Linked DNA regions of Homo sapiens: region 1 is linked to region 2. The links come from fine-mapping of genetic effects on gene expression. A gene starts in region 2. The other region holds a variant in brackets. All regions are shown on one strand. Distances are between the middles of the regions.

What was found. PIP is the estimated chance that this variant, and not a neighbour inherited with it, causes the effect.
Region 1: its variant is fine-mapped to the expression of CHST11 in whole blood (TOPMed, PIP 0.93).

What each region holds. Positions count from the first base shown.
Region 1 is chr12:104,754,938-104,760,458 of GRCh38, forward strand. It overlaps CHST11 (carbohydrate sulfotransferase 11), which reads left to right. Exons shown (of 3, transcript NM_018413.6): 3 at 2,012-5,521. The coding sequence ends at 2,866. Among named protein-coding and RNA genes, the nearest start is that of MIR3922, 170 kb to the left of the region's middle. The variant A/G (reference allele first, on the strand shown) is at 2,991.
Region 2 is chr12:104,453,936-104,458,935 of GRCh38, forward strand. It overlaps CHST11 (carbohydrate sulfotransferase 11), which reads left to right and starts at 3,013. Exons shown (of 3, transcript NM_018413.6): 1 at 3,013-3,594. The coding sequence starts at 3,477. RefSeq lists enhancers at 2,682-2,731, 2,752-2,831, 3,752-3,801 and silencers at 2,902-3,031, 3,112-3,281, 3,322-3,601, 4,192-4,331, 4,492-4,551.

The DNA.
Region 1 (5,521 bases), 300 kb after region 2:
CAGAGTAGCTCCTTAGTCATACTGTCTGCTGTTGTCATGGTGACCATCACCATCCTTTGTCCTGGGGACCATGAGAGGAGATGGACATGGAGCTTAATGCAGGGTGCAATGGCTTCTCCCTGGTGGCTACCATGATGCCCCTCAGTTCCCCAGCAAACTCATCAGTGGCCCTACTTTAGGCCCATCCCAATGGCCCTGTGCACCTTTTAGTAAAAATTGTGCAGATTGAGGTTCAAAGTTGGAGGAGCAGGGGCAGATACTTGGGTTGCACTCAAGTCCTAGGCTCTACTGACTTGGCTGTCCAGGTGACTGGAGGATTTCACGGATACAGCTGCATTCTCAGGACTCAAAGCCACCCACAGTCTGGCCTGGAGGAGGCGGTGACTCTGGGGCTCCGAGTCCCTGTGAAGTGAGTGGCCACAGGAGTTGAGAAAACCAAGAATGAACTAGACAGGAGGGTTGTGCTATGAAGCACACTCAGTGTTGTGGGTGTTCAGTGGAGGGAATGGTTATTCCACTTGTGTGGCAGGGGAGTGTGTGGGGCCATGAAGAATTGTCAAGTTTGGGGCCAGGCACAGTGGCTCACCCCTGCAGTCTCAGCACTTTGGGAGACTGAGGCTGGCCAATCACCTGAGGTCAGGAGTTTGAGACCAGCCTGACCAACGTAGTGAAACCCCGTCTCTACTAAAAATACAAAAATCAGCAGGGCATGGTGATGCGTGCCTGTAATCCCAGCTACTCGGGGGGCTGAGGCAGGAGAATTGCTTGAACTCTGGAGGCGGAGGTTGCAGTGAGCTGAGATCGCGCCACTGCATTCCAGCCTGGGCAACAGAGTAAGACTCTGGAAAAAAAAAGAAAAGAAAAGAATTGTCAAGTTTATACCAGCAGAGATTGAGAGGGGAGAATCCCAGATGGGCCCAGCCTAAGGAACGCTTGCGGCAAAGAGGAAAGAGTGAATCATTGGTTTCTCGGGACCCCCCCCTCCGGTTATGAAAGGGTGAGGAGTAGGAATCAGGCTGGAAAAGTAGGTTGGCATTGGGCTATGGAGAACCCCAAAAGGCCAGTGTATGAATGGGGGCTTGGTTCCTGGGGCAAGGAGGCAACCAAGACACCACCTCATCTGTAGCTCCAGAGCAACTATTCCATAGCCCTGTGCCCCCAGTTTCTCTGTAACTTTAATCACAATTAATATTATTCCATTTATATAAAAGAAGGACCATACTGAACTTTCATGAGTGGTGGTGGAGGTAAGGCAGGAATCCGACAGTAGGGTGCCACCACTCCGTGAAGGTCTCTGAGCCTCTGGGTGCTGGAGACGCAGGTGGTGGCAGAGCAGGCAGAGTGCCCTCCTGTTTCCTGTTCTGGGTAGACTGTGAGTACTGGTTTGGACTGGGAGTGAATGGCCTTTGGGGAGAAACTTTTGCTCTTAGAATTCAGAGGAACACACACATCTTCCCAAGCATTTCCCTTTGCCCTCTACTGAGGCTGACAGCTCTCTGCCCTGGCACCTCCTAGACTATGAGTGATTTAGGTTATGTCTCTTTGCAGTGCTGAGCAGAGCACTTTATACATCATGAGGTCTGGATCCATGTGGGGTGTGTGTGTGTGTGTGTGTGTGTGTGTGTTTAGAGACAGGGTCTTGCTCTGTCACCCAAGCTAGAGCACAGTGGCACAGTCATACCTCAAGGTAACCTTGAACTCTGGGGCTTAAGTGATTCTCCTGCTTCAGCCTCCCAAGTAGCTGGGATGTCAGGTGTGCGCCACCATGCCTTCCTAATTTTTTAGTTTTTTTAGAGATGAGGTCTCACTATGTTGCCAAGGCTGGTCTTGAACTTGTGGCCTCAAGCGATCCTCCTGCCTCAGCTTCCCAGAGTGCTGGGATTAAAGGCATGAGCCACTGCACCCAGCTTAGATATGTGTTTGAACGGGTGGATTTATGATCTACTTGTAGCCAAGTGGAAATGTTTCAGGCAAGTACTGAGTTCTTATTCGTCTTGTGTCTCCTCTGCAGCTGGAGCTCTCAAACACTGCTGTCCTGCACCAGATGCGGCGGGACCAGGTGACAGACACGTGCCGAGCCAACAGCGCCACAAGCCGTAAGCGGAGGGTGCTGACCCCCAACGACCTGAAGCACTTGGTGGTGGATGAGGACCACGAGCTCATCTACTGCTACGTGCCCAAGGTGGCCTGCACCAACTGGAAGCGGCTCATGATGGTCCTGACCGGGCGGGGGAAGTACAGCGACCCCATGGAGATCCCGGCCAACGAGGCACACGTCTCCGCCAACCTGAAGACCCTGAACCAGTACAGCATCCCAGAAATCAACCACCGCTTGAAAAGCTACATGAAGTTCCTGTTTGTCCGGGAGCCCTTCGAGAGGCTAGTGTCCGCCTACCGCAACAAGTTCACCCAGAAGTACAACATCTCCTTCCACAAGCGGTACGGCACCAAGATCATCAAACGCCAGCGGAAGAACGCCACCCAGGAGGCCCTGCGCAAAGGGGACGATGTCAAATTCGAGGAGTTTGTGGCCTATCTCATCGACCCACACACCCAGCGGGAGGAGCCTTTCAACGAACACTGGCAAACCGTCTACTCACTCTGCCATCCCTGCCACATCCACTATGACCTCGTGGGCAAGTACGAGACACTGGAAGAGGATTCTAATTACGTCCTGCAGCTGGCAGGAGTGGGCAGCTACCTGAAGTTCCCCACCTATGCAAAGTCTACGAGAACTACTGATGAAATGACCACAGAATTCTTCCAGAACATCAGCTCAGAGCACCAAACGCAGCTGTACGAAGTCTACAAACTCGATTTTTTAATGTTCAATTACTCAGTGCCAAGCTACCTGAAATTGGAATAAAGGGGGTGGGGAGAGGGAGAGAATCATGCTTTTTAATTTAAGATTTTTATTTGTCAAAAGAATTATATGGATATTGGGTTATTTTGTAAATTAATATTTCTTTGGGGATGATGCTGCGAGCAGC[A/G]TAGTGAGAATTATTTAAAATCCTTCGTAGGGAAGGACAGCTGTCTTTGCAGGGGAAATAGGATGGGTCGTCCTTGTCTGTAGAAGTGAATACTGCAACACTGTCTCAAAGGTTTCTTGTGTTCTGGTGAATTCCATGAATTGTGCATTCCATAAATTCTAATTAATATTATTTATAGTTATTTAAACATGGTCTCATTATTTCTTTTTGTGGCAGCAAAATTCTAACATCTTTCCAGAAGAAATCTATGATTCCTGCTTTGCTTGCTACAGCTCATTTGGGGGCATGAATGTTCTCCTTACTAACCTCTCATGGAGTCATGTGATAACAGCCATTGTCATGTGTATGGATGCCACCATTCTTGAATTTCTGCTAGAAATAAGTAGGTTGCTATTGCACTTAGAGTCATCTTTGCAAGGGACTCATTCCAAACCAATTCCAATCGACCTGAAAGTCCCTTGCACTAAAGAAATGTGATTTTTTTTTAACCCAAGGAGAAAGTTGGTTGTAACAATTTTTCACCAGAATTAGCAATCTGATAGAATAGGCTTTTTTAACAGGAATTTTAAACTGGCGGTGCCAGTTGCAGTGAAGGTGAAGTGGCTATTGCTTTATATTCGACAAATATTTATTGAGCATCTACTATATACTAGGCCCTGAAGATAGAGCGTTGAACAAACCCAATAGTCTTGGCCCTCAAAAAGCTTTATGTGACATAGAGCATCCAGCTCGACAATTAGCAAACCCCTGATATTATTCATGGACTTGACATGAGGTTTGGACTATTCATGAGCAACAGCAGAAGGTCCATGACCCCTACAAATTTACATTTTTCTATGGCCCATATTTGAAAACCTCACATTCGGAGCAGGCCACTTTATATTCGTGAGTGATCCCAAGCTCACTGACCAACAGAAAAGATGCTAAAAAAATGTGTCCTATCATGTGCCTGCTCCAACTGATGGGTAATGTCTGCCTTTAAGCCCCAGAATGGATTCTCCAGGCACAGTGTGGAAGAGTGCTGTGGTTGATTAGCAATGTCTGCCTTGGGTGAGGAAAGGGGAACACTCCTCAAGTGCCTCCTACTGTCATCTCCATTCAGCCTAGCACCACATCCCCATGTAGAAGTGTTGTCTTCTACTGCTTGCCACGTACAAGTGTGAAATGCCAAGGTGAGACTCGTACACTTGGGGATTTGCAATGGTTTTTACCCCTCATGAAGGTCAGAGGTGGACTATTTGTACACATACACACATGCACACCCTCTCACGTCCTCCAGAGGCTGAAAGACTATCAGCATCTTGGTAACTGCCATGCATGAGCAGCAAGGACAGCCTTCCATAATCCATGCCCCATTTCCTCTGGAAGCCTGGAAACTTTTCATTTCCTGTTCCTTGCTAATTAACATCTAAACATGCTTCTCATTTCCAGCCATTGCTGATGCTTCTCAGTTGAAGTTTGAGCCACATCCCTCTTACAGCTAGTGAATGAGTTGGTAGCAGCTACTGTATATAATAATAATAATAGTTTTAATAATAGGGGAGGGTGGGATGGGGTGTGGGTAAGTTTTGCCTTTTGTTTTGTTTTTGATGCCGTATATAGTGAAGGGGTGAGGATATTCTAAACAAACAAAAATTGAATAATTTATTCACAGAAACTATTAAGATTGTATTGTAAAGCTCACAGCAAGCTCAGTGGGCAGCAGCTGCAACATCTCACCGGGGAAATTATTTTATTTAACGTGAGTGAGATGTGGGCCGGAGAAGGTAGCTGAAGCTATTTATAAAACGTTGTGTACCTTCTTCCGAGCTCTCTCCCCTTTGTGAAGGGCGCAGCAACTATACCCTTGATGGATGGAGATTTACGCAATGTGTTTTACTGGGTAGAGTGACAGACCTTGGCTGTCCCTGGAATTGAGAATCTGGACCTTATTTCCAGGCAGAGAACACTGTCCTCAGAAATGGGACTTCTGATAATGAAACAGGTTGTCCAACATTTTCTAATACGCATTCTACAGAACACAGGTTCCAGGAGGCATCAGGTTGGTGTGATGCAGACTAAGGGTTTTGTGGTCAAATATCCTTAAGAAACAAAGTTAAGTCAGTTTCCTTTCTGCAAGGACTTTTCAGCCTTCAATGTGTGCTGTGCATGGTGAATCCCCAAAAATAATCCTTGAGTCTGTAGCATTTCCTGAACTTACATGACCAGGATACTCTATTTTGCAGATCACCCCACAGAGCTAGGGTTCCACCGAGTATACTTTGCTTAGGTTGACTTAGCATATCTGAGGTCTTCAAGGATAAAAACTGCCACCCCAACACCCTTCCATTAAAAAAAAAATACAAAATAGCACCACAGTCTCCATCTGGTTTATAGCAACAGAGGTACTTTATTTAATGAAGCAATGGTTCTAATCCTGGATACTGCCACGGACTACAATTCTATCCCTCCCAGAGGGAGTGGAGGAAGTCTTGGGTGGTGTGGACAGAAGGAAGAGAGGAGAGGGTGAGTGGGGTATAGGGCCCAGGGTG
Region 2 (5,000 bases):
CGGATTGGAAGGGCCACATAAACATCTGTCAGTCCATTGACAACAGCACCCAGAAGCCCGAATTGTGACTTCACACCGATTTCTTCCCCTGCTATAAATTCTACAAGATCGTCAACATAAATAAGACTTTCTCCTCAACCAGTTTTTCAGGGCCATGCCAGGCTTTAAAATGGGCAGGCCCCTGGCCGGGCGCGGTGGCTCACGCCTGTAATCCCAGCACTTTGGGAGGCCGAGGTGGGCGGATCACGAGGTCAGGAGATCGAGACCATCCTGGCTAACATGGTGAAACCCCGTCTCTACTAAAAAATACAAAAAATTAGCCGGGCGTGGTGGCACGTGCCTGTAGTCCCAGCTAGTCGGGAGGCTGAGGCAGGAGAATGGTGTGAACCCGGGAGACGGAGCTTGCAGTGAGCCAAGATCGCGCCACTGCACTCCAGCCTGGGCGACAGAGTGAGACTCCGTCTCAAAAACAAAACAAAACAAAACAAAACAAAAATGCAGGCCCCAGTTTCACTTGCATGTTGTTGAATTTGGAGAGTCAATCAATCAAGCCAGGTCCCACAATGAGCACAATGCCAATCTGCAGAATCTTTCAGGGCAAAAGGGAATTTAGAAAGATGAGGGAGAAAGGATCTGAAGACTGATCCGTTCCTCTTTCAATGTTCAAAGTATAAAATTTTTCTCCTCAGTTTTATCAGTTAATACTGTCCTTTACTTGGCTAATATTTATTATATAGCATAAGATGTAACAAAATTTTCTTAGGCTAGGAATGGAAAGAAAGCAATGATTCTAACTGTAGTTGGGCAGTTTAGAGTGTGATGAAGGAGAAAACAGAATTTTTTCATCACCCCTCAATGTGCATAGAACAACAGAATCACAGACCATTACCACTGACCTTTGTCATAGATTTTAGAGGTGATCTAATCTAACTTCCTAGTCCAAGTAGGCATTACCTCTCTGCCTCTGACTTATTTGTACCTACTATGTACCAGTCATTGTGCTGGGCATTAGAAAGAGACAGAGATGAAGACAACTTGGATCTCCAGGAAGGAGTTCAGCCTAGTGGGTACAGTGGCCCAAAAGAGGTTTGGACCTAGTGCTCACAGCGCAGAGGAGGAAAGTTGCAATTTCAGGTGAGAAAACAGCAAAGACTTCTTGGGAGAGGTGGTAGCTTATGTGTCACAGCCTTAATCCTCACTGTGTTTGGGCAGGTTCCTGATTGTGGGAATGCAAGAATGGATGTTGGGCATGATTCACCATCCTCCCCCACCATGTGGGCCAACTCCATGATCTCTGTGACTCACAGGGAATTGGACTTCTGATCTCTTCCTTGACCCTGTGACTTCCCAAACTGCCTTGTGCATGTCCAGGCTTTGGGGCAGGTAACTGAAGTCTTTGGCCTATGAGGTGAGAGGTCACTTGGGTGACCTGGGAGTAAATCCCTTCCCCTCCCTGGCTCTGTAAAGCCAAGTGTTAAATGAGAGACTTATATTCCAGGCAAAGGCTTTGTGCAAATGCCCATCTAAGCCATGCCCTCTGCAAGGAATCCCCTTTCTTAGTGATGATGGTGGGGAGGTGGGGAGGGTGCAGTGCAACTCCCATTCCTGATCTCCTATCACCAGAGCAGAAGAATCACTGGAGAACGACTCTGTCTGAAGCTTGTTCAGCCTGGCTTCCTTGAGCAAGCAACTTATTCACAGGTAAGTCCAAATTAATACAGCGCACACCGGCTACATAAATATTGTGCTTTGATTGTCTTCTGTAATCAAAGGCAAGGCTGCTGAGTTTGTTACTTTCCCCACCATGCAACTGCTGGAGGAGAACTCTGGGGGAAGGGAACTGAGGTTGCCCAGGTGGTTTTTGTTGCATGTGTCTAACTGCAAGTTGTGTCTCTGTCTATCGAGGGGAGGATAAGGCCCATTACATTCAGATTCAATAAGAATTTATCAAATGCCTATTTTGTGAGAGGCATTGAAAGACACAGTATCTTATTTCATTTTTAATTGAATTAGTAATGACTTGATAAGGCACAAAGGTTAGTCTAACTAACATTTTTTTTTTCCCTGACATACGAGTGATCCCTACACTATTGGCTGTGTCCACTTTATTGATTGTGAAACAGCCTAAATGCATGGAATTGGAAACTGGAAGTCATTCTACACAATACAAGAAAGCAGCACCATCTTTCCATGTACCTGCCAGTGCTATGGCTGGCTTGGCTTTTCCAGCAGTTTTCTGGACTTGGTTGAGGTGGCTTCCTAGGGGCATTTTCTCACCCCCTCCCAGCTAAGACTGCTGTTAATTTTGAATAATTTGGAGGATGCTCTACCCTTTGGGGTAGCAGAGTTTTGCAACCCACAGATCCCTTTTGCCTTGAGGAATGGTGGTGATGGTGGGTGTCAGAGATTCTGTCTGTATAAGTCCCCGGGAAAGCTCAGCTGTCGCCTGACCCGAGGGTCGTGCAGTTTCCTTAACCCTGACTTTAAGTCAGCCCTCTTTAACCCCGACTCCCAAGCTGGGCTGTCCTTTGAAAGAAAAACGAAACCGCCCAGTTCTGAGCGTCGGAAAATGGGCACTCGCTCCCTGGGGGTTTGGGGCAACTTCCCCGCTACGTCGCCCAGGGATTTTAAATAATTGCCAGCCACCAGAAACCCCCTAACCCTTAATTCTTCCCTCCGAGACCCAGCCCGCTGCTTGCCACTTCCCTCTCCAAACGCTGGCGGGGGTGGGTGGCAGCACCGAGGCGATTTTCTTCGTCTTTTTTTCCTCCGGGTTTTGTCATGGAAACGCTGACACAACCTCCAGACGGCGGCCGAGCCCGGCCGGGGACTGAGGGCTTTTGGGACCCTGCGGGAGCGCGGCGCGCACACCGCACTCCCCGGGCAACAGCTGGACGCGACCATATCCCGGGTAGGGGCGGGGGGAGCGCGACGCTCCGCCCCGGCGCTAGGGTCCCTCCCTCCTCCCGGCTCTCCGCAGGCGCCCTCCCCTCGCCGGGGGCCGCGAGTTGCATTTGGTAAAACCCAGCCCCGGAATATATAGATCGTTGGAGCGCAATGAAGTAGCCTTTGGAGAGAAGGGAGAGGGCCCGTCGGACAGCCACAGCGGCCAGCGCAGCGGCAGCGGCGGCGGCACCACCATCACCGCTCGCACCCCAGCCGCCCGGCCCGCGACCAGGCAGCGGCGGCCGCCGGCGGGATCGGAGGAGGCGGCGGAGCGGCGAGGAGGAGGAGCAGGAGCGCGCAGCCAGCGGGTCCACGCATCTCAGCACTTCCAGACCAACTCCGGCACCTTCCACACCCCTGCCCGGGCTGGGGGCTCCGAGAGCGGCCGCGAAGCGACTCCGATCCTCCCTCTGAGCCTTGCTCAGCTCTGCCCCGCGCCTCCCGGGCTCCGGTCCGCGCGGCGGGGTCCCTGCTCCTGCGCCCCGGGCGCGCTTCCCGGACACCCCGGTCCCCGCAGCCAGGACAAAGCCATGAAGCCAGCGCTGCTGGAAGTGATGAGGATGAACAGAATCTGCCGGATGGTGCTGGCCACTTGCTTGGGATCCTTTATCCTGGTCATCTTCTATTTCCAAAGTATGTTGCACCCAGGTAGGGGGCGCGTTAGCGTGGTTTTGTTGGATATTTTCTTCTCTCTCGCGCTCTAGCTCGCTCCGCCTGATTTCTGCCTCTTCCAACCCTACCTCTCCGCCTTCGGCCTCTTCGGGGCTCCTGGCTGCCCAGAGCTCCTGGCTGCCCAGATCTACCCGGGTCACCGCGTCGGGATGGGGAGGAGAAGGGAAGGTGTGCTTCGCCCTCTTCTTCCTACCGGCTCCGGGCTGGAGGATGGGACCAGGAGGGGCGGTAGTTTTTTTTTTTTTTTTTTTCTTCTTCTTTTTTTCTTTGTGTCCCTTGTCTGTCTGTCTGCGAGGTAGCAGGGAAACGGAGAGGTGTGGGAAGCAACCGGGGGTGAGGGGCTGGTTTGAGGAGAACGAAACTCCCTCCCTGCTGCTGCCGAGGTCGGAGGATGAAAGAGTTACCCGGAGCCGGCTGCTCTGCGCCCGGGCGAGCCGCCTCTTCCTGGTTGCCGGGCCGGGGGCGAAGGGTGTACGCCCCGGCGAGGTTGCGAGTCCCTGCAGCAGGCTGGGAGCCCGGGACTGGGCTCCCACGTGTCCCGGGCTCCGCGCAGAGCTGAGCAGGTGTGGAGAGTGGTCGGGTGCCCAGCGTTGCCCCTCCACCACGCGCCGGCCGTTTGCCCCCGGGGTCCGGCTCCGCAGTGACCTTGCGGCTGGTGCCCCGGGGCCTGCTCCAGCCCCCAGCCCTGAGCTGGAAACTCCGAGCTCCTGGGTCACGCCTTGACCACTGCAGTTTTGGAGGAAACTTTGGCCAGGTCCTGGGCTGACCGTCCGTTTGCATCCCCCACTTCTGGGATCCGAGCAACGGGAATCCCCCGGGCGGCGTGGGAATGAACCCCATTCCTCCGGTCCCTTGTGGCTCAGGCAAAGTTCCACGTCCGAAATCTGGACTGGGGGAGGGACGAGGCTCGTCGCTTCCTAGGGGTGCGAGGGAAAGTTTGGGTTCTGGAGAGGGAGGGGCGCCCTCGAGCGCGGCGGCCGGGGGTGAGCAGCTCGGCTGCGAAGCCCAACAGGTAGAACGTTCCGAGAAGCCTTCCGGGTAACGCGGGTCTCCCCGCCAAGCCGTGGCTCCCCTGCTCCCTTTTACCCTCCCTTAGCAGCCCCCTGCCGGGCCACGTTGGCTCAGAAATCCATTTTCTACGCCTCCGAGTTGCCTTTCTCAGCGTAGTCACAGCAATAATTTGCTTTTCTAATTGCAAGGAGGAGGGAGGTGGAAACGCATTTCCTTCCAGGGAAGTGGGGTTGGTGTTTTTCATTTTTGCCTCCCGCCTTCTCCTTTCACTGTGTATCTAACACTTTAAACAGACGCAGTCCCGAATTCATCAAGCCTGCGTTTGGGTCGATGGCAGAGGAATAAAGCTGTTCTTTCCATCAAACAGGCAG